Regions from separate parts of the Homo sapiens genome. Here region 2 is linked to region 1. The links come from fine-mapping of genetic effects on gene expression. A gene starts in region 1. The other region holds a variant in brackets. All regions are shown on one strand. Distances are from middle to middle. Region 1 holds the start of ING2-DT (ING2 divergent transcript). Region 2 overlaps CDKN2AIP (CDKN2A interacting protein).

What was found. PIP is the estimated chance that this variant, and not a neighbour inherited with it, causes the effect. A credible set is the group of variants that fine-mapping cannot tell apart.
Region 2: its variant is the best candidate, but not a certain one, in a credible set for the expression of ING2-DT in prefrontal cortex (ROSMAP, PIP 0.58).

The regions. Positions count from the first base shown.
Region 1 is chr4:183,495,339-183,512,055 of GRCh38, reverse strand. It overlaps ING2-DT (ING2 divergent transcript), which reads left to right and starts at 7,541. Exons shown (of 3, transcript NR_033995.2): 1 at 7,541-7,880; 2 at 14,387-14,496. It overlaps ING2 (inhibitor of growth family member 2), which reads right to left and starts at 6,998. Exons shown (of 2, transcript NM_001564.4): 1 at 6,689-6,998; 2 at 1-1,774. The coding sequence starts at 6,860. The coding sequence ends at 1,104. RefSeq lists enhancers at 1,910-2,410, 2,411-2,911 and silencers at 5,647-5,696, 5,937-6,656, 6,877-7,916.
Region 2 is chr4:183,449,004-183,465,720 of GRCh38, reverse strand. CDKN2AIP (CDKN2A interacting protein) reads right to left here. Exons shown (of 3, transcript NM_017632.4): 3 at 16,657-16,717. Among named protein-coding and RNA genes, the nearest start is that of CDKN2AIP, 13 kb to the right of the region's middle. The variant G/AAG (reference allele first, on the strand shown) is at 7,124.

The DNA of each region.
Region 1 (16,717 bases):
ATCAGAATCTTGGAAAATTCAATTTACAAATACATTAATTGCATTATGATGATGAAATAAGTTAATTAAATGTGAAAACATCAAACAGCACCAATACTAGAAGTTAAGACAGTAAATACACTATTATTTAAAATAGTCACTGATTGGGACAGAAATGAACAATAACCACTAGCAAAACCATTTAAAACAACTCTCTGACATAAAGGCAATATTTAAAGACTACTATATGCCCCTTTCCACTGATAGGCCTGTGGCTACGCATCCTGGCAGCAGGTCACATGGAAAATACTATTAATTAAGATGTATTTTTAAATTGTTCAACCTTGAGCCGTGATACTATATAACCCAAAGTTTGCCAATGTAAGCCAATGTATATTTTTGGTATGCTAACTACTCTTACCTGTCCCAATTAAAAGAAAACACAAAACAACTCCCTTATTAAGCACTAGACTAAGTATATCTACAAAGCAGCAGCAAGGCATTGACAAATGGGCTACTGACAGTGGATCAAAATGCTACTAAGCAAAAGACAGCAGCACGTACTCTCATAAGAGCACATTATTCCACATGGAATCCCAAATTACTCTTATCTCCAGTTCCTTAAACTCCTAGAAGACTAGAGATGAACAAGCCAACGTATAAATAGGACTAGGGAAAAAGCAGCTCAAATGGCATAGTGTCTGTATTTTAAAGTACCCAAGATCATTTGATGCTTAAGAGAAATCCCACTACATCTAACATTTTTTTAAGCATGTATAACTAAAATGCTAGTGAAACTTTTGTGTTTACCCAAAAAATAACATTGCAGTTTTAAGTGAAAATGAAATAGGCATGGTTTGTGAAATTTTTATAATGTTTACACCACCCTCTTCCTGTTCCCTGCTCCTTTCATCAGGTGATCTGAAGACTACCTGGTTGGAAATATTTGGTAACTCAGTGCAGAAAATTAAGGTCACAGACAAAGTACAACAACTTTTAATACACCATTAATACTAATGATTAAAAATTATTGCATAGTCTTATGCATTTACCCTAAAACATTTTCTGAAAGCAAACGAATTATATAAAAGACAAATAACCCTTTAAAATGTGGATGGCCTTTACTACCTCGATCTTCTATCCTTTTTTGTCTTTTCAGTACTTTTGTCCATTGTTTTCTCATTATCTCCCCTGCACTTTGGGCAATACCATTTCCCCTTTGGTTTATAGGTAAGTGAAACACATGAAAAGTGAAACCATTCAATTGGACACTGTTCATTGTCACATCCTATCATCTCCCCATAAGACACTTGGTTGCATAAGCAGTATGTAGGTTCATTAGGATCTATTGCAAACTCAACAGGTGAAGCTTCCCTTTCCTGCTTGGCCTTGGAGCGTTTCTTTTTCTTTGCTGACTTGGATTTCTTTTCTTTAGGTGGCTGATCATCACAGTCTTCAATCCCATTTGCCATGTGACATAAATCACGGCTTTCACTGGTCCGCTGCCTGCGGGGTCTTCTTGAAGATCTTTCTGGTTGGCTGGAATCCATCTTTGCTTTATCTGAGGCTCGTTCACTTTCAGCAGGATCTTGGAAACACTGTGAGTGTAACTCCATTTGTCTTGCCCGATTTTCCACCAATTCGAGCATTTGTGTAACAATCTGTATTTTTTCATCTCCCAATTCTTGACTATTAATTAGTGCTCTCTGGAGAAGCTGCTGTAGACGTTTCTTCTGGTTTAAATCATCTTCTTTCTTATATTTTTCGTAGACATCATCAATTTCCTTTAACGTTTCTAAAAAAAGGAAAAGAAAAATGAGAACGTTATCATGTGTTAGCAGACACAACATTTCCAAGGTAGTTATTTTTTACAGAATTGAAATTAGAACTCAAACCATGAAACCATACTCCTCTTTGGTACATATACATTAAAAACTATTTCATACAAAGACCACATTATCTAATATGAAAGTATAGTTAGAAATAAAGTAATGAAAAGAAAGAACACAAAACTAATACTCATTAATCTATATTAAAAAGAGGCTGGGCGCGGTGGCTCACGCCTGTAATCCCAGCACTTTGGGAAGCCGAGGCAGGTGGATCACCTGAGGTCAGGAGTTCAAGACCAACCTGGCCAAGATAGTGAAACCCTGTCTCTACTAAAAATGCAAAAATTAGCCGGGCATGGTGGCAGGCGCCCCTCATCATTTCAGCTACTTGGGAGGCTGAGGCAGAGAACTGCTTGAACCCGGAAGGCGGAGGTTGCCGTGAGCCGAGATCGCACCGCTGCACTCCGGTCTGGGCGACAGAGCAAAACTCCATCTCAAAAAAAAAAAAAAAAAGGCCAGGCGCGGTGGCTCACGCTTGTAATCCCAGCACTTTGGGAGGCCGAGGCGGGTGGATCACGAGGTCAGGAGATCGAGACCACGGTGAAACCCCGTCTCTACTAAAAATACAAAAAAAATTAGCCGGGCGCAGTGGCGGGCGCCTGTAGTCCCAGCTACTCAGGAGGCTGAGGCAGGAGAATGGCGAGAACCCTGGAGGCGGAGCTTGCAGTGAGCCGAGATCGCGCCACTGCACTCCAGCCTGGGAGACAGAGCAAGACTCCGTCTCAAAAAAAAAAAAAAAGGATAAGAGATGTTTGGCTAATTAATGATCAAAAGTATTTCTCATGGGCAGGAACACTGAATGCCACTTTAGTCTACTAAGTACTGTAACACCTTCAAAACAACCCTATATATAAAATGTGCAGGCTGGGGTCCAGCTCTAAAACTTGAAAAGGTTACAGGACTAGGCTACAGATTACTGCCCAACTGTGTTTACAGGATTTACAGTCCAATCAATGACTTGTGACAATGACTTGTGACATGACTCCGGAGATATAGCTTCACTTTCACATCATACATTCTTAACAAAGAAGGCATAAGCAACTCTTAGCTTCCCATCATCTTACTTTTAATGGCTCTACTTTAGCCTCACATGGGAAATTCTGAAAATGAAACTATTTCCAGAGTAGGTTCTGGTTCTGGCATCAACTGACCAAACCACTAACAAAATTACAATAAAGTCAGCACTCGATCATTCTGCCTTTGTAGATAAATCAGTAGTTGGTTCTGAGCTTTCTGAACTGCTGATTTAGTTGTATGGCACGTGGAATACACTTACTTAAATCAAGTAAAAATAGCTGAGTCACTAGAAGGTATCCAAAAATCTGAAAATATAATTTCAGATGTCACCAAAAATTTACTTAAGATTAGTTTTGCTCGAATCCGTTTTATTTCTTATTCTTACAAGATGTAATGCTATCTCAAAGAGTTCTGTCCGCATGGTATTTTTCATACCACATGGCATACTAGTTTTATATTCCAATATTATAATTATTAAAAACAGAAATGTTAGGCAAGTAGATATATACATTGGGGCTGTCTGCAAGTAAGGCACACAAAAGCAAATATTCAACAGAACTCATTAATCAGCTTCTCCCTGGAAATCGCAGGTACTCGTACTTGATGTACAACTGTCTAACTTGGAATATATAACAAAGTGCCACCACACAGTTCAGAGTACTTACACCTGCATAGCATATTTTCGAACAAAGTTCATGTCTATTCCATTTGCTTAGCTCGGCATCTAAGCAGATTTCTTAAGAACCTCATTTCCCTACAGGAAAAATAAGGAAACTGGTTCCCTCAGACACATAAAAAATTGAGGATTAAAAAAAAAAGAGGCAAACCTCTTTTCAAATATTTTGTACCTAATAATCAGGTGTTAGAGGCTAAGTACAGTATATATCATACCAGCACATTGATAGATGAGATAAAAAATTTGTAAGATACCGTATTATATAGTGAAAGAAGACAAGAAATTAACATTTACTCAGCCCCTTCTATGTGGTAAAGATTTTCTCAGTTAATCTCCACAGCAACCCCATGAGGAAGCCATCACTTCTGCTTGTGAAAAAAACTGCAACTCAAGAGATAAGAACCCCAGACTTTGAACTGTGCCAGATCTGTATGTCTGACCTCGCAGTGTAAGCACTTTCTATAAACTATATGAAAGGCACTTGAAATTAAGTATCAAAGTTTAGTTTGAAGGTTGTTATTTATCTAAGAAATTATGAGTGGGAACACTAGAATAAAAATAAAGGTTCTCTAATAACCCTATCCCATAATAAGTACTTCAATTGTGAAATTGTTTTCTTCTTTATTTCTCATTTTATAAGTTTTTCAGCAGTTCTGAAAGTGTCTCAAGTAGGTTAGAAAGAAATTTGACTGCCTATATAATTTATATCACTAAATATTGCTAGAAATATTAGATCCAAAACCAGAAAATACTTAAGCACTAGTGAAGATATAAAAAACATGAAATCTGAACCCAAAATATACATAAACATAAAACTGTGAAAGTTGAGCTCAGTAACCACGTGCAGAGTGAAAACTAGATGAGTTTTTAATCACTAATCACAAACTTCATAGAGCTAAGAATTTGTATAATCTCTCAATCTTGTAAGGCCTACTATATTACTAATGTTACCAGAGCTATTAATACCTGACAATTATAGATGATCCGAAAGATTTCCCTGTCAACAAATTATAGTATCCCTCACCAACTTCAAATAGCTTAACTCTTGTGAAAGGAAACATGTGCCTTCAAAGAAATGTAAAAACCTGCAAGCTTGCTGGGCGCGGTGGCTCACGCCTGTAATCCCAGCACTTTCGGAGGCCGAGGCGGGCGGGTCCCCTGAGGTCAGGAGTTCAAGACCATCCTGGCCAACATGGTGAAACTCCGTCTCTACTAAAAATACAAAACTTAGCCCGGCGTGATGGCAGTTGCCTGTAATCCCAGCTACTCGGGAGGCTGAGGCAGGAGAATCGCTTGAACCCGGGAGGCAGAGGTTGCAGGGAGCTAAGATCGAGCCACTGCACTCCAGCCTAGGGGACAGAGCAAGGCTCTGTCTAAAACAACAACACAAACTACAAGCTTTACAAACTTTGGTGTTATCTGAAAAACTAGAAAGGTTCCATATACAATTATTAAGCACGTATCATTTTTAGGTTACCATTCATGTTTGTGCTCCATATCTGTAGAAATCCCCTTGGACAGTTTTTATTAAAACTTAAATTGTTTGAAAACAAAGATATGCATCTACAGTAGCAGGCTCTGGAGCCAAATATTCTACATCGAATTAACTGGACGAGTTACTTGAACTCTTTGTAATCTGTAAAAGAAATATTTATATAATGGTCTGGACCCAGCGCATCAGTTTTAATTCCCTCCCCACCCCCTCCCCAAACACGGATCAGTCCTATGAATCCTATGGATTCAGAAAACAGAAACAAATTTATAAACTAAAAAACATCAGACACTTATGTCACCCAAGAAGTGGATTCCTTAGAGACTTTTAAAGTATAGGATTACTGGCGTGTCTACAAAAACAGAGAATGGGTCCAGGAAATTATCTTTAAAGTTCGTATGGCTGTTTCCATACTATGTTCAAGGTCTGTTCCTCGATTCAAGGTTATTAAGCGCAACACATTTCCCCTTTTAAACTGCCCTCCTAGTAGCACCACCGATAGTAGGTGGTAACACTGTAAGGAAGGTCGATTCTGTCCCGGGTTCCCGGGTCGGCCGGCAAAGGGTGGTTTCGCCTCCACACTTAAAGTCGGAGAAGGAGGGGCTCGGGGACGCCAGGCGGTTGCCCAGTCAACCAACCCACTTCCTCCTGAAGCCCGGAAGTGACACATGTCCCGGAACCTACGCGGAGCCAGGATCCGCGACGGTCCGAGCTGCTGATCGCCGTCCTGATCCATTGACTGGGAAAGAGGTTGGAAACATCACCGCAAAACATGCTGCAAACCCCGATTCGGACTCCGCTGGGGCCGAACCAACGCCCCCGCACAGCCCCGACTCCCTCCCCAGCAGCCAGCTCGCCACCGCCCCTCTCGCGACCAGCCATTTTCCAGGCCCGCGGGAACGCGCGCCGCGCCCCTCCCACGCCCCTCGTCAAGCCCGCAGGCCCCGCCCCCGGCGCGGGGGCCCTCCCCGCCACACACGCCCCTCTCTTCCTCTCCCGCGGGGGACCCCTCCCCTCTTAACCATTTTGCCGAAAGAACTGGGCTAGGGCTACAACGCGGGGCGCCCGCGAACTTTCCCGGGGCGAGAGAGCGGAACGGACTGCTCTCCTCCGGGCCGGGGCAGGAGCGCGGAGGAAGGCCCCCTCAGTCCGCCTCCGCGGCCTCTCGCCCCCTCCCCCCGCACGTTCCAAAGCACCCGCACTCCGGGGTGGGGGCGAGTGAGGTGGGGAAGCGCGCCCCGCAGACCAGCGGGAGCCCGGCCGCTCACTCCCTCCGACCCTTGCCCGGCTGCAGTCCCGGGCCGGGGCCGCAGGGTCTGCGGCACGGGGCGGGCCAGCGCCTGAACAAATGCTTGCTGCTTAAAATGGCTGATTCCCCTCAGCGGCAGCTGCAGCCGCTGGGTCTGCAGCGGGGGCTGACAAGCGGCCCCCACCCCCACTCTGGGGACCCCAGAGAAGTACTCGCCCACCGCGGGGCCACGGAGGGCCGCCAACCCGGTCTCCAGTCCTCCCAGTCCCGCTCGGCAGACCCTCGGTGCGCTCGGGGAGACTGTCACGGGAGAAAGGGAAGGTGGCACTCCCCCGGACAGGCTCCCCGCCACCGGCTCCCGAGGCCGGCAGCCCCGCGGCTCCTACCTTGATATTTGTTGTCCAGCTCTCGCAGCACAGACACGTTCCTCTGCATGTCGTGGGGCAGCGACTCCACGCACTCAAGGTAGTCCTGCACGTAGCAGGTGAGCAGCCGGCTCCGCTCCCCGGTCAGGAGCGCGGCCGACGAGTACAGTTGCTGCTGCTGCTGCCCTAACATCCTGCCGATCCGCGCCGTCGCCGCCGCCTCCGCATCCAGCAGCCGCACATGCACCGGCCGCGGCCGCCGCGGGCCCTCAGCTCAGCAGCCCGGCGCCGCGGGGACCCCGCAGCCGCTCGAGAGGGCACGGCCGCGCTCCCCGATCTCCACTCCCCCCAGAGCAGCCCTCACTCCCCGCCCCCGCAGCACCAGCCCAGGGGCGGGGCGAAACCGGGGCTCCCTCCTTTCTCCCCTCCCGCTCCAGGACCGGAGCAGTGGGGATCCCCTCGGCGGGGCCGGCGCCGGGGTCCCGGGCGCTGACACTTCCTGTCCCCCTCGGAGTCCCCAGATGCTACGAGTGCCGTCTCGCAGCCCGGATCCCCATGACAAGCCCGTCGCCGCCCGCCTGTCCCCAGTCACCCTCCGTGCCTCACGGAGAGCCTCCCGCTAGCCTGCCCCCGCCCCTCCGCCCGCGGCCGCCTCTGCGCCTGCGCAGCGCTCCCTGCGAATAAGGCCGGGGCCCGCCCCTACCGCCTACCGGAGGGTTCGCATTCTCCCGCCTTCGCTCCGCCGCCCGGGCGATTGGTCTGCCGGCTCTGGGCTAGCGGGGGAGGGTGTGGGGGGCGGCCAAACGGCAGGCCGCGCCCCGCCCCCCTTAAAGGGGAAGCCCGGGGAGCCAGTCTCTGCGCCTCGCGTCTGAATGGGACCCGGGAGGGGAGGCGGCTCGGTCCTTCGTGCCGTCCTCCCCGCTGGGAGGGGCAGCTCCAGCTCCGCTCGGCTCGCTCCGCCCGGCCACACCGGCTTTTTCCCCATCAGGCGGTCCGAGTGCGGCTCCTCGCGAGCCTGCAAAGGAGCAGCAGGCGGTTCCTTTTCGGACGACCTGGAGCGAGGCCTGCGGGACTGCGCGCCCCGGCGGGCGGCGTGCGGCTCCCGGCATGCGCGGCGGCTGCGTTCCCGCCGCCTCCGAGCTCGCCTGGGGCTGCCGCCCGCCTCCTGCCGGGCCCTCGGGCTCGCCCGGCACCGCGGGGCTTGATCAGGGAGGTAGGCGGTGCTCCCTCCGGCCCCCGGCGTCGTGTGCCCTGCGGGTTTCGTGGCCCTTCCCCTACGCTGGAATCTTCTGTGTCATTTAGGGGGAGGGGATGCGGGACGGCATCTGTTTGACAACGCATTGGTCCCACAGACAGCCTTTAAAAACAACTGCTTTTGGGGGGTGTCAGAACATTTAAGCACAGGACGTCGGTGAGGCTTCCTGGCGGAGTGGGGCACACGCCAGCTTTACGGGACTTTTTGCTCAGTCCTGCCCCAGGACTGCAATCGGAGGGGACCTGGGGCATGGAGGAGACGCGAGTGAAAACCTAGTCAGCGGGCGGGCCCTCGGCCCCATAATCTACGTGATCTCCTAGTGGGGTTTAATTTCGGTGTAGTGTAAATGAGATGTCAGGCAGAGGAGCTGATTTTAATTACAGATGGACATTTTTGAAAGAAATGGGTGCAAATAGAATGAATGCATGGATAATTTTAATGGAATGCCTATGTAAACAAGGCCAATTGTGAGTACTACCTTTGAGTTAAAATGTGAGTGAGTGGTGACAAATTTGGATCTTCTTAGATCCAGTTTGCAGCGTTGGTACACCTGAATGGTGACCTATTTAGAGCACTTTTGAAACAGCTGTTAATAGTAACTAGCCTTTGACTTGCAAAGAGAAATCTAGATCTTTATCTAGAGGAAATTTTAAATTTCAAACCAAAATAAAGCACTCCAGGCAATTTGACATCTTGGGACGTCAACTATTTCAAAGGACTGGGAAATTGTCTTGGGTTATTATCCTAGGACACTGAGGTTTGGGCCAGTATTAAGCAACCCAGACAGTACAGTGGATAGTATTTCTGAGAACATTCTGGGATTTTACTGTTCGTGAAATCTTTCGGCCGGGTCTTGTCAAAAAACCGCCACTGTGAAGAACTGAATTTTACTGGTTTTTACTTGAACCCTGCTATTTTTGTTTTCTCACAAGTTTGAATAAGCTGGTCTTTATCAAAGGCGCAAAATAATGTGGGGTGCCTTGTTACAGGTCAGACACCGAATGTACCTATGGATTTTATTCAGTCTGATAAGTGATCTGCAAGTAGATAAGAAATGTGTTTAGAAACTAGAAGGGGAAAAAGGCAAAGATGCAGAATACCTAGAGTACTCCAGAAACAGAGCAAGATGAGAGGAGGGATGAGCATGGGATAGGAGACATTTATAGCATTATTGTCACCTTTTATAATTCTGTTGAACAGGCTGGTAAAAAAGCAAAAACAATCCAAAGAATATTTTAGCTGGTACTGATCTAAAACTGTAAAACACTGTAATATGATAATATATGTATATGTATGAATTATTTTAGGCATGCTTTTCTTGCTATATTTATTTTAAGAGATTAATCTACGGCTTATTCTTGCCACCCCCAAAAAAAATCGCCACAAACCCTAAACCCAACTCTTGACCTTGGTTATTGAGCGCTGTCCTTCCCTTCTGAGTGGTCACTTAACTGGAAATATGGGGCCTCTTCAGATTGAATTTCTTGTCTTCTAAATGCAAAATTTAAAATCTCCCGTTCTCAGCAACTAGAAATTAATTTATGGTATTTAATCCTGTGAATAAAGCAAAAAGGCATTTTATTTGCTCTACAGTGTATTATCTACCATAAAGCAACCCTAAAAAAAAGATAAGTAACTGATCTCCCCAAATTAGTCTGGGATTACCTTGAATTTCTAAGTCTGACTTTAAGAGGTCCCTGGCAGGAAATGTGTACGCCTCCGTACCTGTCTCTTGGGGAGAGCAACAACTTCAAACTGGTTGAAAACAAACTGGCAAGTAATGGTGAAAGATTCCTAAAGATGCCTGCTGAGAAAATTCAGCTTCTGTTTGAGTCAGATCAAATAAATGAAATCCTTTTCTTTTTTCTACTTTTTAATATTTTTAAACTTTTATGGAAATTTTCAAAGGCAAAAGTAATACTACAATAAATCCTTATATACCGTCTACCCAGCTTCAACATTTAGCAACATATGGCTAAGATTATTTAATCTATAGCCCTTCACATTCCCTCACTCTTGCTGGATTTTTATCATTTTATCTGTAAATACTTTAAATATGAATAATATGAATAGGTAAAATATAATAGTTGTTTTTTGTTTGTTTGTTTTTGAGACTGAGACTTGCTTTTGTCGCCCAGGCTGGAGTGCAATGGGGCGATCTTGGCTCTTTGCAACCTCCGCCTCCCAGGTTCAAGCGATTCTCCTGCTTCAGCCTCCCAAGTAGCTGAGATTACAGGTATGTGTCACCATGCCCAGCTAATTTTTGTATTTTTAGTAGAGAGGGGGTTTCACCATGTTGGTTAAAGCTGGTGTGGAACTCCTGACCTCCAGAGATCCGCCCGCCTTGGCCTGCCAAAGTGCTGGGATTACAGACGTGAGCCACCATGCCTGGCCAAGATAACAGTTTTTTAAGCATATCCGTAATACCATGTATTCTGCCTCCCCAAATTTTCTTACTATCATTTAATAACTACACAATTCAAATTTTCCTATTGTCTCAGTAAATCTTTCACATTTGGTTTAACAGGATCCAGCAAATCCCATGCATTTTATTTGGTTACTGAGGTCTTTTCCAAACCAGTAAGAGGCAGTTAATTCCCTGTTTAATTCAGTGAAGCAGAGAGCAATGTTTTTCTGAGGAAGATATTTAAGTAGTTTAAAATCACTGCTTTAAATATGGAGAAATTCAAGAAGAAATCCTCATATGAAAAGTCACCAATTGATAGCGTGTTGTAAGAAATGTAATTGTACCTGATGCAAATAAATAAATCCTTAGTAATCTAGGAGGCTGTGTTAGAGTGTAATTTGTTCTAGAAGGTCCAGTGAAGCATCTTAAATTATAGTGAAAAACCCTAAAACTTTAAATCAATTCATTAGTACAAAAAGCAACTAAAGAAAAACCTAATAGTCCTGTAATCCCAGCACTTTGGGAGGCCGAGGCGGGCGGATCACGAGGTCAGGAGATCAAGACCATCCTGGCTAACACGGTGAAACCCCGTCTCTACTAAAAATGCAAAAAATCAGCTGGGCGTAGTGGCGGGCACCTGTAGTCCCAGCTACTGGGGAGGCTGAGGCAGGAGAATGGCATGAACCCGGGAGGCGGAGGTTGCAGTGAGCGGAGATCATGCCACTGCACTCCAGCCTGGGCGACAAAGCGAGACTCCGTCTCAAAGAAAAAAAAAAAACAAAACCTAATGGTGTGCGTCTCCACTGAACTCAGTTTTAAAGCATTAAAGCATTTTTTATTACTTTATTACATAAGTAATACACATTATTGTAGAAAAAATTTAAATAGAAATAAAAAGATATATAAAAGTCACTACAAACTGGAGATAACTCTTCTCAATATCTAAATATACTCCAAGATGTAATTCCATTTTAGCAGTTCTTTTGCTTTAAGAAAACACTTTGGCTAGGATTGAAGTACAAAGTTAGGCCAGGTGTGGTGGCTCATGCCTGTAATCCCAGCACTTTGCCACGAGGTGGGCAGATCACCTGAGGCCAGGAGTTCGAGACCAGCCTGACCAATATGATGAAACCCCATCTCTACTAAAAATACAAAAATTAGCCGGGCGTGGTGGCATGTGCCTGTAATCCCAGATACTCAGAGGCTGAGACAGGAGAATCGCTTGAACCCGGAAGGCAGAGATTGCAGTGAGCCAAGATGGTGCCATTGCACTCTCCAGCCTGGGCAGCAAGAGCAAAACTCTGTCTCATTTAAAAAAAAAAAAAAAAAAAAAAAAGGACAAAGTTAAGAAAATATCAGATTCTGTAGAAGGAATATTAGAAATCTGAGCAATATCACCCTGTACTTGGAGTTTATGTGTTAGACTGCACAGATTTAACTGGTGTATACAGTCAATCCTACTGCTTTAGATTATAGTACTATTCAGCATTTAGGATGACTACTAAAAGCAAAATATGATCCTAAAACGTTTTAACGAAGGGACCGTGTGAATGACTGGGATTGTAGTGAAGAGGAAATTCGGTATAATAAGATCTCATATTTTCATAAACAAGAAAAAAGGCAAACGTAATATCCCCTTAGCTATCCCAAAGAGAAAAAATAGCACATATGGTATACTTTGCATATTGCTGACCAGAAAAACATTCAATTTTCCCTGGTTAGTTACCATAGTTACATGAGCCCTTTATAACATCAAGAGGGGGAACTAGGTCACAGTTTTGAAGGAGTTTGAATTATGCAATTATGTTTTCTAAAAGCAGGGGAAAGGGTTTTTAATTTAGAGAAGAGAGATTTATACTCTGTTCAAAATTGAAATTTTGGTCTAATTTTGCTGGCAAAGCCTAAAAATTTGTCCAAAATTTAATAGTTGATATAGTACATATAAATTATTCAACCTATACAAATAACATAATAGCTAGATCCATAAAAATGACATATTCTGTCTTTGTAGATATCCCTTTTTCTCAATGAGCTGTTATCCAAAAATGTTTTTGCAGGTAATCAGGAAACCCAACAATTGCCTAGCGTCTGAGAGTAGCCAAACCATGTGTAAACTAAAGCCTTGAACTCTTCCGGTCTTTGAAAGTGTGAGGTAAAGGTTGGCACAGTGCCTGTCAGATGCTACTCTTTGTTGTACAGCAATTTTCCTATTGATTTCATCAAATGGAAGTGAGTGGCAGGAAGGGAATGTATTGAAAGTTGTGGTGGCACAGCCTTCACCCTTTATATATATTATTATTATAATTATTTTTACTAAGAACCTTACAAAAAAGATGTTTTTATTTAAAAAAAAAAAAAAAGGCCGGCCTTGTGGCTCACCTGTAACCCCAGACTCTGGGTGGCCAAGGTAGGAGGATCACTTGAGAACAGGAACGTGAGAACAGCTTAAGTAGCAGAGAGATCCTGTCTCTGCAAAAAATTAAAAAATTAGCCGGGTGCAGTGGTGTGTACCTATAGTATCAGCTACTTGGGAGGCTGAGGCAGGAGGATCCCTTGTGCCCATGAGTTTGAGGCTGCAGTGAGCTAGGATCGTACCACTGCACTCCAGCCTGGGCAACAGAGTGAGACCCTGTCTCAAAAAGAAAATGCATCTCAAGGTTGCATGATTTCAGATAGTTGTTTTCAATCTCATGATCACTCTAGACTCGTAATTTTTTAATGCTGAAGTTATCTTAGATCAACGATTTCTCCAAAGGAAGGAAGAGCAGGCAACAGGCAGCTCAACTGGGTAGCTGGAGGAGCCAGTGTTGCTGATGGTAGTTTATCCTAACCATCATCTATGTAAGGATGGGGAAGAGGATGGAGATCACTATTACAGATCACCTACAGACCAGCTTTTTTACAGGTGATAGTATTGGGACGCAGAGAAGTTAGCTTGCCCAGTGTCATATAACAATCCATAAAATAAGTATATACCTAAAAGTTTAAGAGTTAAACAAATAATTATCTTTTTTCTGGCTGACAATTATTGAGGGGAGAAGCAGGCCCATGGGAAAAAATTAAGAACTCGGATATCATAAAATATTTTTCTGTGAAGTCTCGCAGCAAATTTAACATCTCTGAAGGAAAATTAGAATTTCCTGGAGAATAATGTTTCAAGTAACCACCCAGTCAAAAGTACTAGAAACTGTGTATCCTTTATTCTTATTTTAAAGGATCAATGCCTTATGCTTTCAGCACTAGCTAAAGAATAGTCTTTTAAAAATGAAACTAATGCTGTCGGCTAGGTGCTTTTTGCTAAATCTATTGTTTATTTGAAGTACTTGATTATTTAATGAGGTCTTATTGGAGCTATTGTTACATTAATTGCTCTTAGCATGGTTAATCCAATATTTGATAGGTATTGATTATCTTTCATGGGTAACAGATTTTTTTTTTTTTTTTGAGACGAGTCTCGCTCTGTCACCAGGGTGGAGTGCAGTAGTGTGATCTCAGCTCACTGCAACCTCTGCCTCCTGGGTTGAAGCAATACTCCTGCCTCAGCCTCCCAAGTAGCTGGGACTACAGGCGCACGCCACCACACCCAGCTAATTTTTGCATTTTTTAGTAGAGATGGGTTTTCACCATGTTGGGCAGGTTGGTCTCGATCTCTTGACCTCATGATCTGCCCGCCTCAGCCTCCCAAAGTGCTGGGATTATAGGCATGAGCCACCATGCCCAGTAAGGGTAACAGATATTTAAAAATTATTTATTTCCATAAATTGACATTCTCTGACTGTTTTATACATGAAACCAGTATATCTCACTTTACACAATACATACATTTCTGGAAAATTGTATTTAGATCTTATTTTGCTAAATCAGGTAATTTTAAATGTGCCAGTTCTATAAAATGAGACCGAAATTTTGAAAATGAAAATATTCATTTAATACAAATAATTTATCTTATTTTATTTATTTTTCTCTGTTGTTACCTTGAGAAAACATAGGTAGTGTTCATTAACTGCAGTCTAGATGTACTTTCATTTTCTTGTTCTAACTATACTGTATATTGCAGATATTTTAGTACAACATCTTTTCATCACAGAAATGATATCTTCAGGGAAAAGACTTCGAAAAAGTGCCTGAAGTGACACAACACATGTTTTCTTCTGGTATCTGGCTAAAGTAAGTACGAAAATTAGATTAAAAACAAAGATATAAAATATATGGGGGAAAATTATATGGGAAGTATTAGAAGCTAAAAAGCTATATATTAAGGGGAAATAGAAGAATCAGAGAAAGAAATGACTATTTGAGCCATTACTGATGATGGTAGAACATTAAAATTAAAATTTAGGGACTGAGATATACAAATTTTATTTATGGAGACTATTTGTGATACTTTTTTTAAATAACAAAAAATATAGTTGCTGGCCAGGTGCAGTGGCTCACACCTGTAATCCCAGCACTTTGGGAGGCCAAGGCAGGCGGATCACTTGAGGTCAGGAGTTTGAGACCAGCCTGGCCAACATGATGAAACCTCACCTCTACTAAAATACAAAAATTGGCTGGGTGCAGTGGCAGGCACCTATAATCCCAGCTACTCAGGAGGCTAAGGCAGGAGAATTGCTTGAGCCCACAAGGCAGAGCTTGCAGTGAGCTGAGATCGCGCCACTGCATTCCAGCCTGGGTGACAGAGTGAGAGACTGTCTCAAAAAAAAAAAAAAAAAAGTGTGTGTGTGTGTGTATGTGTGTGCATATATATATGTGTGTATGTGTGTGTGTGTGTATATATAGTTGTAATACAGGGTTAGAGCAATAGCATATCTAACCTAGTCTTTGACTTGATAATTGGTATGTTGATTAAAAAATAACTTCAAAAAGCCAAGTGACTTCCTTATATGATATTACATTTAGGATATCCTAAACAATGTTAACTTTGTATTCAGATTAAATATCTCTGGAAAAATAGTCCGGCAATATCTAGAGGCTTCATTTATCCTTTTGCACATTTGTTTTTCTTTTTTTGGTATATGTATTATTTTAACAAAAATCTATGCTTCATCTAAAATATAAAAGAAACAAAGAACTGGGTGGGTGCGGTGGCTCATGCCTGTAATCCCAGCACTTTGGGAGGCCAAGGCAGGTGGATCACGAGGTCAGGAGATCGAGACCATCCTGGCCAACATGGTGAAACCCCATCTCTACTAAAAAAAATACAAAAAATTGCGTGATGTGCGCGTGCCTGTAGTCCCAGCTATTTGGAAGGCTGAGGCAGGGGAATCGCTTGAACCCGGGAGGCAGAGGTTGCAGTGAGCCGAGATCGTGCCATTGCACTCCAGCCTGGTGACAGAGCGAGACTCCGTCTCAAAAAAAAAGGAAAAGAAACAAAGAACGTTATGCACTTTCTAGAATAACAAAATGCAAATGTAATATTATCTACCAGGAAAAGAGTAGATAAGTAGATACACCAAATATTTGGATTTAGTTCACTTTTATGATAATTTTTTTTACTTATTAGTCATGTCTGATCTTTGTATACCAGCATTCTAATAACACATAAATTATTACACAAATTAAAGCAAAGAAGTACCACAGTTGGTAAATTTGAAGCTTCTGAAGACTTCTCACTTTAGGAATTAATCTAGGCAGTTTTGGCTTAGAAACACATTTTTTGTGAAAAATTTTTAGCAGTTTAAGAGAAGTTGTAGGTAGCCCTCTTCTCATTCAGTATAGCCCTCAACTTGCTGCTAAGAGCTTTAACAATTTTTGCAGGATCTCACTTGAGTATTTTAGGTTCAGATGGAACAATTCTTATCACTTTTATGAATCAGATGTTTTAAAATTCAAATTTAGATTGATGTTATATGTTAACACCGTCTATAACATCTGCCTACACCCTCGGAAGGGACCTATGAAATATTAACTAGCCAAGGAATCCTTTTCTGACTGTGGGCTTTTCTGTAGGAATGAAATCTGGCAGAAATATTTAATGAAGAGGAATCTGAACATAGCAGTTGAGAAAGAAAGATTGGGAGAAGACTCCAGATGTCGTAAAGCAAAGAGAGGATGAGGCACAGGAAGCAGCTCTTATTATTTCTGTTGCACTTTGGCTCAGAGAACTCCAAGCAATTGATTCTATCCTGAGGACATATTTTTTCAATTTGAGATATAATTAATTTGTTTTCCAGTAAAATAGATATTAGTAGATCTATGACATACAGGAAACAATCGAAAATAGAGATAAGTGGTAATAATACCTCATTACTTAAGACATCTTTTTCAGAAAATTATTCTTCAGTGTGTGGTGCATTGGCTTTCTAGGAAAGAACGGGAGGGAGAACCCTGCTGACATGAATAATGGCCTGGGGGAGAGGGGGAGAGAAGCAAGAGAAAGGAGCAGTTA
Region 2 (16,717 bases), 46 kb after region 1:
CTTAATTTAGTTTTTGATTAAGCTATCTTTCTCCCACTAGTTCAAAATGCTGCTTTTATCATATTTTATATTCCCTAGAAAATTTGACTGATTTCTGAACTTTCTATTTTCTCCCATTTATCTCCTATCTTGTTATGCTCCACTACTATACAATTTTAACTTTTATGACTCCAAGGGTTAAAATATGTTTTTATTTATAGGGTTAAAATATGTTTTAATATCAGGTAGGGATAATACCCCTTCATTATTCTTTTTTTTTCTGAGTTTTCCTGACTACTTATATTTTTTTTCCTACAAACTTTTGAATCAGCTTATCTAGTATACAAATCCTCTTGGTATTTTTCTTGGGATCATGTTAAAATATAGATAAACAAACATAACTATTACACTTATGAAGTTAATTTTTGTATCTAAGAGCTTTATGTGTTTTCCTGTTTGTTGAAAAATTCCTTCTTGTCCCTTAGTATTTCAATGTTTTCTGCATGCAGATTTTAAATGCTTCTTTATCACTAAATAGTTTATTTTCTGTTGCTATTGTAAATAAGGTCTTCTCTATTATGTCTTCTGGTTGGTTATTTTTATATTCTAAAGCACCAGATTTGTATTGGTATTTGGCATTAATTTCATACCCAGGTACTTGACTGAATTCACTTATTTATTTAGATTTTTAAATTGATTATGGGTGGAAATTCTAGTATACAATTATATCTAAATAACAATGATTTTACCTTCTTTCCAATGTTTAAACATATATTTCTCTCATTGAATTTTTTTTTTTTTAAGACAGAATTTCGCTCTTGTCGCACAGCTGGAGTGCAATGGCAGGCTGGAGTGCAATGGCACCGTCTCAGCTCACTGCAACCTCCACCTCCCAGATTCAAGCAATTCTCCTGCCTCAGCCTCCCAAATAGCTGGGATTATAGGCATCCACCACCATGCCTGGGTAATTTTTGTATTTTAGTAGAGACGGGGTTTCACCATGTTGACCAGGCTGGTTTTCTCTCATTTAATTATATTGCTTTGTAGCAGGATGGGCTGCAGGCAAAACTCCTCAGACACCGGCTGAAAGAGGGAAGAGGCTTTATTTAGCTGGGAACCTTGGCAGACTTGCATCTCAAGAACCAAGCTCCCTGAAGAAAAAATTCCTGGCCTTTTTGAGAGGTGAAGCGAGCTGGACTTCCTGGGTTGAGTGGGGACTTGCAGAACTTTTCTGTCTAGCTAGAGGATTGCAAACGCACCAGTCAGCACTCTGTGTCTAGCTAAAGGATTGTAAACACACCAATCAGCACTGTGTAAAAATGCACCAGTCAGCGCTCTGTGTCTAGCTAAAGGACTGTAGACGCACCAATCAGCACTCTGTAAAAATGCACCAATCAGCACTCTGTGTCTAGCTAAAGGATTGTAAACGCACCAATCAGCACTCTATAAAAGCGCACCAATCAGCGCACTGTGTCTAGCTAAAGGATTGTAAACGCACCAATCAGCATTCTGTGTCTAGCTAAAGGATTGTAAACGCACCAATCAGCACTCTGTAAAAATGCACCAATCAGCACTTGGCATCTAGCTAAAGGATTGTAAGTGCACCAATCAACACTCCGCAAAAACACACCAATCATCACTCTGTGTCTAACTAAGGGATTAAATGCACCAATCAGAACTCTGTAAAAATGCACCAGTCAGCACTCTGTAAAATGGACCAATCAGCACTCTGTAAAATGGACCAATCAGCAGGACATGGGTGGGGACAAATAAGGGAATAAAAGCTGGCCACCCCCCAGCCAGCAGCGGCAACCTGCTCAGGTCCCTTTCCACTCTGTGGAAGCTTTGTTCTTTCGCTTTTCACAGTAAATCTTGCTGCTGCTGACTCTTTGGGTCCACACCACCTTTAAAAGTTGTAACACTCGCTGTGAAGGTCCGCAGCTTCATTCTCGAAGTCAGTGAGACCAAGAATCCACCAGAGGGAACCAAGTCTGGACACACTTTTAAGGGCTTACAACTCTATGGGGGTCTACGTGAAAGATATCCAGCAAGTGATCTATAGGTAATACACGTAGTTAGAGTGGGGGGTTAATCTTTAACCTCAGGCCTGGTCAGTGGCACCGGTTGGTCTTGCCACTGACTTCATTTCTGTTGTTTTTCAGCTTTTACTTCCTCCTTCTCTTCAGGGACAGGAAACAGTAAGAGAAATGGCGTATCTCCTCAGCTTAAGATAGTACTTGCCAGGCAGGGTGGCTCACACCTGTAATCCCAGCACTTTGGGAGGCTGAGGTGGGTGGATCATGAGGACAGGAGTTCAAGACCATCCCGACCAACATGGTGAAAACCCCATCTCTACTAAAAATACAAACATTAGGTGGGCGTGGTGGCACGCGCATGTAATCCCAGCTACTCAGGAGGCTGAGGCAGGAGAATTGCTTGAACCTGGGAGGCGAAGGTTGTAGTGAGCCGAGATCGCGGCATTGCACTCCAGCCTGGGCAACAGAACAAGACTCCATCCCCCCACCAAAAAAAAAGTGCTTATCTTGTCCATAACTTAGCAGGAGTGTTTCAATATTACATCCACGCTGTTTCCATATTAAACAGATTCTTTGTGGTTGAGATAAATATATTTCATTATGCTAACAACGTATTTGTATACTCCTGTTAAGAACTTACATCAAGTATGAATATGGAATTTTTCCAATGTCTTTGATAGCTTTTTTAGACATGAGTAGTTATGTGCTGCATGACGATGTTTTGGTAACAATGGACCATGTATACCGTGGTGGTCCCATAAGATTATAATGGAGCTGAAAAACTCCTATCACCTAGTGCTATCATAGCCATCATAACACAATGCATTACTCACGTGTTTGTGAAGATGTTGGTGTAAAGAAACCTACAGAACTGCCGGTCATCTAAAAGTATAGCACATACAATCATGCACAGCACATAATGAAAGGCTTGATAATAAAGGGATATGTTATTGGCTTATGTATTTACTATCCTATATTTTTCATTGTTATTTTTGAGTGTACTCCTGCTTTGCGGTGTCTCACGCCTGTAATTCTATCACTTGGGGAGGCCAAAGCCGGCGGATCACTTGAGGTCAGAAGTTTGAGCCTGACCTGGCCAACATGGTGAAACTCCGTCTCTATTTAAAATACAAAAATTAGCCAGGTATAGTGGCGAATGCCTGTAGTCCCAGCTACTTGGGAGGCTGTGGCAGGAGAATCGCTTGAACCCAGGAGGTGGAGGTTGCAGTGAGCTGAGATCACACCATTGCACTCCAGCCTGGGCAACAGAGCAAGACTGCATCACAAAAAAAAGGAAAGAAAGCTGTAGAATAGCCTCAGGCAGGACCTTTAGGAGTTATTCCAGAAGAAGGCATGTTATTACAGGAGATGACAAGCTGTAGGAGTGGAAGGCAGTGATACCGATCATCCTGGCCCTGTGTAGGCCTAGGCTAATGTGTGTGTTTGTCTTAGTTTTTAGCAAAAAATGTTTTAAAAGTAAAAACATAAAAAATAAAAATTTTAAAAAACATGAAAAAGCTTATAAATATGTTTGCACAGCTATGCAATGTTTTCATGTTTTAAGCTTTTATTACAAAAAAGTTTAAAAAATTAAACTCGATAAAGTAAGTTACAGTAGCCAAAGGTTAATTTATTATTGAAGAAAGAAAAATTATTGTTTATACATTTAGCATAGCCTGCGTGTACAGTGTTTATAAAGTCTATACCCATGCCCAGTAATGTCCTGGGCCCTCACACTCACTCCCCACTCACTCGCTCACTCACCCAGAGCCACTTCCAGTCCTGCAAGCTCCATCCATGGTGAGTGCTCTGTGAAGGCGTTCGTTCTTTATCTTTTGTACCATATTTTTACTGTACCTTTTCTATGTTTAGCTATATTTAGATATACAAATACTTAGCATTGTATTACAGTTGCTTACAGTATTGAGCACAGTCACATGTTGCACAGGTTTGTAGTCTAGGAGCAGTAGGCCATACCTATAGGCCAGACCATAGATCCTAGGTGTGTAGAAGGCTCTACCATCTAGGTTTGCGTAGGTACATGCTATGATGTTTGCACAATGACAAAATTGCCTGACACATTTCTCAGAGCATATCTCCATCATTAAGTGATACATATCTGTATAGAATTTTTCTTCTTATACCTATTAATAATAACAATATATTTCTGTAGAAATATACTTGGTTCATTAACTAAACACTGGAAATGTTACCTCTTTTTATATGCTCTGAAAAAATTAAAATAAGATATGGGAGTTGTCTTTTCTTTAAAGGTTTTACAGAATTCCTCTGGAACTGCTGGAATTTGAGGGGTCTTTTTTTTGACAATTTCCTATTTATTTTATGGTAATTGATCTGTTTAAATTTTTTTCTCTTCTAAATCGATTGTGGGCCCGGCATGGTGGCTCACGCCTGTAATCCCAGCACTTTGGGAGGCTGAGGCAGGTGGATCACTTGAGGTCAGGAGTTCGAGACCAGCCTGGACAACATGGTGAAACCCTATCTCTGCTAAAAATACAAAAATCAGCCAGGTGTGGTGGCGCACACCTATAATCCCAACTACTTGGGTGGCTGAGCCAGGAGACTCACATGAACCCAGAAGGCGGAGGTTGCAGTGAGCTGAGATGGTGCCACTGCACTCAATCCTGGGCGACAGAAGGAGACTCTGTCTCAAAAAAAAAAAAAATCGATTATGGTAAATGACACTTTTCTAGAAAACAATTTTATTCATTTTTATATGAGATTTCCACTATATTTGTGGTTACTTTCCTCTTATCAGTAATTTTTTTTTTTTGGAGACAGAGTCTCGCTCTGTCTCTCAGGTTGGAGTGCGGTGGCTGATCTCAGCTCACTGCAACCTCTGCCTCCCAGGTTCAAGAGATTCTCCTGCCTCAGCTTCCTGAGTAGCTGGGACTACAGGCATGTACCACCACGCCCGGCTAATTTTTTTGTATTTTTAGTGGAAACGGGGTTGCACCATGTTAGACAGGCTGGTCTCGAACTCCTGACTTCAGGTGATCTGCCCACCTGGGCCTCCCAAAGTGCTGGGATTACAGGCGTGGACCACCACACCCGGCCTCAATAAATTCTTATTTGCGTACTTGTTTTTCTCCTTCATTAGGTTAAGCAATGGCTTGTCCATTTTATTGTTTTTGTTTTGTTTTGTTTTGTTTTGAGACAAGGTCTCGCTCTGTCACCCAGGCTGGAGTACAGTGGAGCAATCACAGCTCACTGCAGCCTCAACTTCCCAGGCTCAAGTAATTCTCCTGCCTCAGCCTCTTGAGTAGCTGGGACTACAGGTATGTGCCACCATACCCAGCTAATTTCTTAAAATATATTTTGTAGAGACAGGATCTCACCATGTTGCCCAAGCTGGTCTTGAACTCCTGGGCTCAGGCAATCCTCCTGCCTCAGCCTCGCAAAGTGCTGGGATTACAGGCATTAGACACTGCACCTCGCCTATATTATTGTTTAAAAAAAGATTTCGAATTTAGTTTCCAGTTCTGTGGATTTAAAAAATTGTTCTATTTCATCAACTTATGATTTTATCATTATTCATTTCTTTATTCTGCTTTCCTTACATTTATTTTTTATTCTTCTAATTTGTATTTTCCTTCTTATTTACTTTGACTCTGTAGCTAAGCTTCATATCCCATACATACAAATATGGAATGTTTTCTATTATTTTTATTTGCTATTTTGCAGTTTCTACTTTGATTTCATCTTGAATTCCAGAGCTGTTAAGAAAGTATTTTAAAGTTTCCAGATGGCAGATAGTTTTTGTTTTGGGTGATGTTATTACATAACTCCTAATTTCGTTGCATTGTGATTGAGATTGTTGTCTGTACGTTTTCATTTTTGTGAATATTCCATGAATACTTGTAAAAACAGACCGTTGCCTTTTTTCAGCAATCATCATTTGATATATATTTGGATATATAACTGAGATCTGTTTCATTAACTGTGTTATCTAGCTCCTCTGTAGCCTTGATTTTTGTCCAGTTGATCTGTCACGGACCTTGAGAGGCGATTGAAAGTCATCAGTGCACTGAGGTCTGTTTTTCTGGTCTCTCCTATAATTTTTCCTTTTGAATATTGAATGTTAACTCTCTGCTATTTGGTGCTTAACTGTTCATAACTATTAGATGTATATTGTGAATTATGTCGTCTGCCATTATGAAGCGCTCTTCTTTGTTTTGTTTCTTACTTTTGAACCTGAACTCAACCTTGTCTAACAGTAAGAGCTCAACTCCTGCTTTGTTTTTGGATAGTTTGTCTATTTTTGGTTGATATTTTAATACTACACATTAGGTGCAAGGCAATGTTGTAAGCACTCTACACATTACCTCATTTAATATTTTTTACTTTTAATGATATGTTTTTGCTTATCCTTTTATTTTCAAACTTTTTGCGTATTTTTAATTGTGTCCCCTGAATGCAGCATAAAGTTGTATTTTGCTTTATGATTCAATCTGAAAATTGTTTTCTTTATATAGGTAAGTTTATTCATTTATACTTTTGATGAGCCACATACATTTGGTGTTGATTCTGTCCTATTTATTTTGTGCTTTCTCTTTTTACATCTTTTAAAAGATGTCACTGTATGACCTATTTTCTGTGTTGTGTGTATATGTTTTTCTTTTGAAAGGTAGGAAGATTTGGGTTTTTCCTCCCAGAGTTTACCCTTCTAAATGTGACTTTATATTGTGCCCTTAATCTCTCACTTCTTTAGAGAGTATCTATTTATTTATTCTTGCATTGTGATAAAGGAATACCTGAGGCTGGGTTATTTATAAAGAAAAGAGCTTTAAGGCCAGGTGTAGTGGCTCACGCCTGTAATCCCAGCACTTTAGGAGGCCGAGGCGAGCGGATCATCTGAGGTCAGGAGCTCGAGACCAGCCTGGCCAACACGATGAAACCCTGTCTCTGCTAAAAATACAAAAATTAGCCAGGCGTGGTGGCAGGCGCCTCTAATCCCAGCTACTCGGGAGGCTGAGGCAGAATTGCTTGAACCTGGGAGACGGAGGTTGCAGTGAGCCAAGATTGTGCCACTGCACTCCAGCCTGGGTGACACAGCGAAACTCCATCTCAAAAAAAAAAAAAAAAAA[G/AAG]GAAAAGAAAAGAGGTTTAATTGGCTCACGGCTCTGCAGGCTGCACAGGAAGCATGGTGCCAGCATCTGCTTCTGGGGAGGCCTCAGGAGGCTTCCTATCATGGCAGAAGGCAAAGGGGAGTCAGTGTGTCACATGGTGAGACTGGGGACGAGAGAGAGAGAGGACAGTGCCACACTTTTAAACAACCAGATCTCATGTGAACTCAGGCCCCACCTCCAGCACTGGGGATCATATTTCAACATGACATTTGCAGGGACCAAACATCCAAACCATATCAATACTATTCCCAAATTTAGTTTATTATCTTTCTCATTATTTACCTTTCAGCGTGTTTTTTAAAAACCTAAAACCCTCTATTATTTGACTCGCCAGCATTGAATGGTAAACGCTGACCTCATCTATTAAAGATGAGTAAATTTGCACACTTATTTCTACCTACCTTCTTTCTCTTTTCTGCTCCAACTTTTATTAATTATATCATTTCTACATTATCAGAAAATATAAAATTTACTTTCTTTTCTGTCACTTTAATCCCTGAGTTTGCTTTCATCTTGGTTATACTGTTAAATAAAGTTAGCCGGGCGCAGTGGCTCACACCTGTAATCCCAGCAGTTTGGGAGGCCGAGGCGGGTGGATCCCAAGGTCAGGAGATCGAGACCATCCTGGCTAACATGGTGAAACCCTGTCTCTACTAAAAATACAAAAAATTAGCCGGGCGTGGTGCGGGCGCCTGTAGTCCCAGCTACTTGGGAGGCTGAGACAGGAGAATGGCGTGAACCTGGGAGGCGGAGGTTGCAGTGAGCTGAGATCGCGCCACTGCACTCCAGCCTGGGCGACAGGGCAAGACTCTGTCTCAAAAAAAAAAAAAAAATAGAGTCAGTGATTGCTTCCCATCCCTTTGTGCTAACTTTCCCGGTCAGCTTGCTGGTTAAAACTTCCTTACTTATGCAGAGTTCATGGGACAATATCCTTGAGTTCTTGGGTATTAAAAATTGTGTCTGTATTGGAATCATCATTTGCCTGGATAAAATTCTTCTTCACAATTTTTTCTTAGTGTCTTCTGGTGCTTCGTGTTGCTATGAAGTATGAATTTACCCTGAGTTTTTTCTTATACATTACTTGAACTTTTTGCCTGGACACCCAAAGGATCCCTTCTAAAATCTATGAAGTCCAATAATTTTATTAAGATACATGTAAATATTTAGAGCTGGGCATGGTGCATGCATCTGTAGTCCCAGTTTTTCAGGACGCTGAGGCAGGAGGATCTCTTGAGCCTGGGATTTCAAGACCAGAGTGGGCAATATAGCAAGACCCCATCTCAAAAATATATATATATATGAATATTTAGTATTATAGGCCAGTTTTCCCTGAAATATGGTGTGCTCTTTCAGCATGTTGATCCTATTTTATTTTATAAAAATGTTTGAAGTATTATTGTTTGTCCTGTTCAACAATTCAACTTTATTTTTTGAGACTCCAATTATGCTCTTCACCTCCTTTGTCTATTTTCTCTGTCATTTCGCTCAAATTTTAAAATCCCAAATTGATACTTCCTTTGATCCACTTTTATGCTTTCGACTCTGCTCCTGTGTCGTCAGCAGCATCTTCTCTGCCTGTGCTTCTTCCGATCTCGTTTTCAATTCTATGCTGACTTTACTGCTTCCTCTCAGTTCCTGAGTCCCTCCAGCCTATGTTTTATGTATTCCTGGTGCTCATTCTTTCTTCCCTGAGCTACCACACTTCTGCTTTGAGCTCTTGCTTCATAGAACTGATTGCTGTTTTAAGTTGCTGCTGCTGTTTTTAATTCATGGAGTAATGTTTGGTCCCAATTTTCAGACTGTCATTGTTGGCTCATAATGTGGCCCATAGGGTCTACGAATGTGAGACTGTCCGCTGTATACCTCAGGGCTCCGCAGACTCTCGGGTTTCTGGGATTTTTTGATAGATTAAGTATTTTGGAGGACATGGGTGAAAATGCCTGATGTTAGGACAGGCACCCTGTGCTTAGGACGTGCTAGCATGCTTTGAGCCTCATTAACACTCAAGAGTGGCCAGTTTTCTCCCTGCTAAGTATTCCAGCCAGTGCCTGAAAACAGTGTTGCTAGAATACTAACAATTTCTCCTGAAGAGTGGAAGAAAACCAAAGAGCTACACCGCTACCGGACTCTCCTGAGATAGACTTTGTCTAAAAGGGCGTAATGCTGTGAGTCTGGCTCTTTCATCTCTTGAGGAGGCAGCAATTTTCATTTTCATCAGCGTGACACCCATTGGCTCTAAGTGATATCACAAGTAATTTTTTGCTAATGATAGAATAAGGAAGATTGAGTGATCTATTCTTTTTACAGATTATATCAGATTTAAAGGCACGTACTGTATTTGTGATGACCATCTGTCTAACTGTTGGAAGGAACAAAACATTACAGATTATCTTAGTGGAAACAGCTTTCCCAGGAAGGTAGTGATAACCAAAAAATTAGGGTAGGAAACTAAGAGAGACCAAGTCCACTGTAAGATAAGATTGTTGGCATCGTTCAATGGCTCTTACCAGTGGTTTTAATCGATAGACATCTGGTGAAAAAGCTGCCCATATTGGCAGCATTGGCAGCAAAGAGTTGCTTTGGCTGGATGTGATGGCAGCTTGGAGACCAGTAGAATGAAAACCACAGGAACCAGGGGGAGGAAATCCGTTGTGGGAGGGCACCAGCATCACCCTATTCTGATCAGTTGTTTGAGTTTCTGAGGGAAATCTCCTGACCATTTTTCTTTCTGAGGCACAGTGTTTGGGGAACTTGCTAGGAGAAAGACCTTGAGAATGGGGAGAGTGTGCTCCAGGACCTGGGAGTGCTGGATGGCTTTCATGACCATCTTCGTACAGCGTGGACCATGGCAAGAACTTATTGGAGGTCTCAACGGCTGTTTGTTCACCCTGAGTCATTCTACAGGACATCTATTTTGGCCTGCCCAGCACATTTTTTCCTTTTATGGTTAAAACATCCCTCTGGAAAGTCATCCCTGAGGCAATGAGAACTTTCAGGAATTCTCCCCACCACCACTACTGCCCAGCCACCCATACCCAGGTCATATGGTCTCAGTGGGGATGGCAGTCAAGGTGCCCAGCTCAGGATAGGCGCTTTAGCTGCTTCAAGGGTCTGTTGTCTAATGCCCAGGGACAGATAGGTTAACCAACCTTCATTCTGGTCCCATAGCTTTGAATTCAAGTATGTTCTTGGCTCAGGCCATGTTATCTTGGGAAAGCTAGGAGCAATAGATGAAAATGAAACTGGGCAAGAGATGGTGGGTTTACACCAAATGTTCAGAAACAAGTGATGTGATAAATTAAGGGACATTATCTATTTGTAGGAGAGAACACAAAGCAGACACTCAAGTTTTATTCCGTATCTGAGCCAACACAATTCTTCATCTGTCTAGTTCCTGATTTTCCCCCAAGGTTTGGGAATAGAAACAAAACAAATATAACATAATCTAAGCAGCCTTACATTATCTTATGTGCTTTTATTTTAGGACAGTCTTGAAATAATCCCTCCTGTAGAAGAATATGTTGGGCAAAGTAATTCATGACCAAGTATAAATAGTGCCCCCAGTATCAGCACATAACTAGCATATATGCTACTTCCAAGAAGAGTTTCTTAGAATTTATGTGCTATCAATGCTTCATAGACCTTTAATACTATTTTTTTCAAAATCCTTTCTTTAGCAGCTCTTTCCATATTACAGAACCAAATTCCTTTTTAAAGTAAGGTTTTAAAAATAAATTCACTATATACAGCAATCACAGGGATTCCAAAAAGGGCCACCTTCTTCCACAACTTCAGGGGGCACCACTCATTGTAGTAACTGATGTCTATTACATTGCTTGTGAACGGCTCCCCGTGGTGTGTACAGCTAGGTGGCTCTGTATTTAAGGTCCTGATGCTTTCACTATTTCTTACTCAAGCCCTCTTTGCTTTGCTCTCTTGGAACCTCCTAAGAAGTGATGCATTCTTTAATTACAGCCAGGGGATAAAAGAAGCAGGATCGGCCGGGCGTGGTGGCTCACGCCTGTAATCCCAGCACTTTGTGAGGCCGAGGCGGGCAGATCACGAGGTCAGGAGATCAAGACCATCCTGGCTAACACGGTGAAACCCCGTCTCTACTAAAAATACAAAAAATTAGCCGGGTGTAGTGGCGGGTGCCTGTAATCCCAGCTACTCAGGAGGCTGAAGCAGGAGAATGGCGTGAACCCGGGAGACGGAGCTGGCAGTGAGCCAAGATTGCGCCGCTGCACTCCAGCCTGGGTGACAGAGCGAGACTCCGTCTCAAAAAAAAAAAAAAAAAAAAAAGCAGCAGGATCATTGGATGAAAATTGTCATCACTCTCATCTCTGCTATATTGACACAGGTGAAATTCATGCTACACCATAGAGCAGGGGGTCCCCAACCTGCAAGCCTCCAGTACCAGTCTGTGGCCTGTTAGGAACGGGGCCACACAGCAGGAGGTGAGCAGCGAGTGAGTGAGCAAAGCTTCATCTGTATTTACTGCTGCTCGCCATTGCTCACATGACCGCCTGAGCTCTGCCTCTTGTCAGATCAGCGGTGGCATTAGATTCTCATAGGAACACAAACCCTATTGTGAACTGTGCATGTGAGGGATCTAGATTGCACACTCCTTATGAGAATCTAATGCCTGATGACCTGTCACTGTTTCCCATCACCCCCCGATGGGACCATCTGGTTGTAGAAAACAAGCTCAGGTCTTCCACTGATGGTGTATTATGGTGAGTTGTATAATTATTTCATTATATATTGCAAAGTAATAACAATAGAAATAAAGTGTACAGGCTGGGTGTGGTAGCTCATGCCTGTAATCCCAACACTTTGCGAGGCCGAAGCAGGTAGGTAATATGAGGTCAGGAGTTCAATCAAGACCAGCCTGACAAACATGGTGAAACCCTGTCTCTACTAAATATACAAAACTTAGCCAGGCATGGTGGCTCATGCCTGTACTCCCAGCTACTCAGGAGGCTGAAGCAGAAGAATCGCTTGAATCTGGGAGGTGGAAGTTGCAGTGAGCTGAGATGGCACCACTACACTCCAGCCTGGGCAACAGAGCGAGACTCTATCTCAAAAAAAAAAAAAAGTGCACAATAAATGTAATGTGCTTGAATCATACCAAAACCATTCCCTACCCACCATCCGTGGAAAAATGGTCTTCCCTGAAACTGGTCCCTGGTGCCAAAAAGGTTGGGGACCACTGTCATAGAGGTCAGGACCCTCAGGTCTCAAATGCCTGCCTCTTTAACCTCCTCCTTGACATCCTTCCCTATGAGAACCATAGTGGCAGAATGATTGCTAGAGAATGCAAATTACAGGGGAGTGTAGTGAATATTTTCAAAATAGTATCCTTATTTTACTCCATCTTATTTCTCTTGTTAATCACATACAATATTATTTTGAAACAAAAAACAAAGACAGAAAGGTGCACATATTTCTACCCCATACTAGTTTCCAAACTGCAGGTTGAGCATTCATGATAAACTCCTGCATTAAGTATATATGATCCACTATCAGTGCACATAGCTAAGATACACTAGAAATGCTTCCCGGGAACTCAGATTTTATTTCATGAGAATCATTTTTTCCTTAGCTAGTATAGAAAATTATTTAATAATATGCAAGTGGTGAAGAGTAACAGACAGCATTCCTAAGATACATCATGCGTCTCGACGCATTGGTTATATCATTGCCTCTGTAAATTGTCCCTGAATTCTACAAATAGAATGTCTAGAAAAATTTTCTAATGATTCACATCAAGTTTTCTTTAAAGTTTACTTTTTTAGAAGCTTCCTAAATAGTTGAACATAAAATTTCTCAAATTTTCCTCAAAGTGTGCATTTCGCTTACTATTTTCTGGAATATAGGAAACAAGGATCATGGGACAGCACGTCTCACTGGCATTTACATTCACTGCCCCAAATCAGAACCAAACCACTGTTCAAGTCTTCTGTAAGAACACTGGATTTGGGTCCCTGAGGTGCTGATAAAATTTTATTTTTTGGCTTACATAATTATTATATGGGCATTCAGTAATTGTTGGACTTTACATGTGTGGACTTTATGGGTTTTTGCAATTGTATTTCACAATAAAAAGAAACAAAAGGCAGCTATTTTTAGTATTACTTAAATGTTAATTTATGTAATAATCCCTTAAACCCGATCTGAGTCCCCACTCAAGTAAATTTTAATATGGCATACTACTTTAAAAAACTAATTAGTTCAACTTTGTAGTAAACTGGCAGCTTCGACCCACATCCACTCTAACACCTATTGCAGAAGGAGGCTGGCTGTTTACACTAAGCCTCCTAGTTGCTGCATCCCCTCTGCTCATAGTCCAAGGAGGTAGCTCAGAAATTGAGTCTGAGAACAGAGGCTGGGTGTGGTGGCTCACGCCTGTAATCCCAACACTTTGGGAGGCTGAGGCAGGTGGATCACCTGAGGTCAGGAGTTCGAGACCAGTCTGGCCTAGATGGTGAAACCCCATCTCTACTAAAAATACAAAAATTAGCTGGGTGTGATGGTGCGCACCTGTAATCCCAGCTACTTAGGAGGCCAAGGCAGGAGAATCGCTTGAACCCGGGAGGCAGATGTTGCAGTGAACCGCTGCACTCCAGCCTGGGCAACATAACCAGATCTGTCTCAAAAAAAAAAAGAAAAAGAAATTAAGAACCAAACGTATAATTCAGTTGTAGGGTGTGGCCACCCTCCTTTGACCAAAGTAGTTCTCTGTTTTACATACACAATGCCCCCATTTTTCTTTGAAGAAATATGGCTAAAGTTTGAAAACCACTGATGACATATTCAGAACTTGGGTTTTATCATTTTTAAGTGTCTAAGCCCTGGTACACTGAAAACAGTATAAGGAAATCACTAGATGATTCCCTCCCAAATCACCTTTTTGTACATTTGTCTCTAGCTTCCAAGTTATATACATTGCACATGATAGTCCCACTTCAGTAAAATGGTAGTCTTTAGTGTATTTACTACTTATATTGTTTAGTTTGGTTGCTTCCTAAGACCTCCAAGGATTCTGATTCTATTCAATAAAGTTTCAAATTCACAAAGTATTTCTGATTGCTTCTTAAGTACTGGCATATGTAATCTCTAGTTTTTACTCAAAATGTCCTGTATCCAACCCTTTGTGTTTAGTATTACTTTTTTTTTTTTTTTGACACGGAGTCTCACTCTGTCACCCAGGCTGGAGTGCAGTGGCACAATCATAGCTCACTGCAACCTCCACCTCCCAGGTTCAAGCGATTCTCCTATCTCAGCCTCCCAAGTAGCTGGGGTGACAGGCACGCACCACCACGCCCAGCTAATGTTGTAGTTTTATAAGATAAAGTTTCACCATTTTGGCCAGGCTGGTCTCAAACTCCTGACTTCAGGTGATCCGCCTGCCTTGGCCTCCCAAAGTGCTGGCATTACAGTTGTGGGCCACCATGCCCAACCTAGCATTACTTTTCTTTTTTCCCTTCAAAGTTAAAAGTCCATTTAGTTTGGGGCCTTGTCTACTCTTTTTCTTGCTAGATGAATAGCAAAGGAACAGAAAAAGAACTTTAAAAACTAATAATTTTCAGATAATGACTTTTAAAGGAGAAAAATCGGCTGGGCACAGTGGCTCACGCCTGTAATCCCAGCAATTTGGGAGGCTGAGGCAGGTGGATCACAAGATCAGGAGTTCGAGACCAACCTGACCAACATGGTGAAACCCCGTCTCTACTAAAAATACAAAAAAATTAGCTGGGTGTAGTGATGCACGCCTGTAATCCCAGCTACTCAGGAGGCTGAGGCAGGAGAATTGCTTGACCCCAAGAGGCCGAGGTTGCAGTGAGCCGAGATCACGCCACTGCACTCCAGCCTGGGTGACAGAGCAAGACTCCCTCTGTCTCAAAAAAAAAACAAACAAAAAAACAAAACAAAAACAAAAGGAGGAAAATCGAGAGATATTAAAATTAAAGTTGGTAGTAAGAAATGGTTCTAACTGGATGGCAACTAAGCTGTGTGCAGGGATGCCAAAGAAATATGATTGATATTTTTCTTGGGGAGGAATAGTTGGGCAATAAATGGCTTAACCCTTCATTCAACTTGAACATTTTGTTCTAGTAGAAAGTGAAATAGTTTATTCATCAATCACAGAAAATATTATTTAAAAATCATGCAGGAATGGATAACCAATGTCTAGAAAGTAGGTCAATATAGGACTTCAGCACAATTTTTGAGGACAAAGTCCACAAAGTAGTAACACAATACCTGTAGGACTGACCTGATTCCCAATTGCGGCTTGTTTTTGTTACTTTCTCACTGCTGTTACTCAAAAATCTAAACAGCAAGTAGAAATTTGTACCAAGAAAAGCTGCACTTGGCAGGGAAAACATAATTCAAATTGGAGCAGGCTCCTGATAATACATATCAAAGGCCTTAAAGTTACACATATCCCTATGACAATTATCCTAGCCAATGACAGCAGTGACAGGCTCCAAGAATTTAGGTCAAAAACTCATGACAGTATCATTCTTACAAGTCAACTAATTTTACCATTAAAAAAAAAATCTCATTCTAACATCAAGAAAAATCTTGATGTCTCAGGAAATCGTCTCCCCTCACTCATCTGAAAAAAGCAGTATATCCCATCTTGGTAGCCGACTTTATTCACTCAACTTGATTATACACTATTTTAGGCAGGTGTGTTTGGTTTTTTGGTTTTGGGGGGTTTTTTGTGCAGATTTCTTTTGTGTGTGTATGGTCTTTTTACAAAGTTCAACTGCATCCATATGGGATGATTCACTAGTTGAGGATATTCAAGATATGCAAGTATTAGAAGCATTAATAATAGAAGAGCCTCTGAAGTGACTCATTTCAAGGAGGCTTTAGAAAGATGCGGTCACTTAATCTGGTAAAAAATCACGTTCTGGGAGGGATTTTCAGAAATTTCAGCATATAGAGAAGTGACAAGGATAATAAGCAGTACAACATACTTGAGCTTGGGTTTTGAAATCAGATATGGGCTTGAATTATCTGACCGAATTACTCTGTGTAAGTTTCTCCATCTGAAAAGTAGGCCAAATGAGAAGAGCTCCTTGTAAGAGGAATAAGAATATATAAGTGAACCATGGGATATCTGCACCATGCCGGGCACTTTGAATGTATCATCTCATCTAACTGCCATGCTCTATGAGACAGCTATTAGTCCTATTTCACAGACGAAGTAAGGTTAAAAGGTTAAATTCCCAGAGGTTACATGTCTAGTAAGAGACAGCCAAGATTCACTCTCAATAATAGAATTCTAAAATATGCATTTCTCTTAAACCAGGATTCTTTAAATGTTATTAACCAAGAGCATTTTTCTAGGTTTTTAAATAGGATTATCATAAATGTACACTAAACAACTTCCTCCACATCAAAAGTCACTATAAAACATTCTCAATAACCTTCATAGTAACTTGAAACAAGCCAATTTAGGAAATTACCAAACCACCTAATTGGATATATTATATAAATTTATTTGTTCGTTGTAATTTTTTGCTTTTCTGATAATCATTA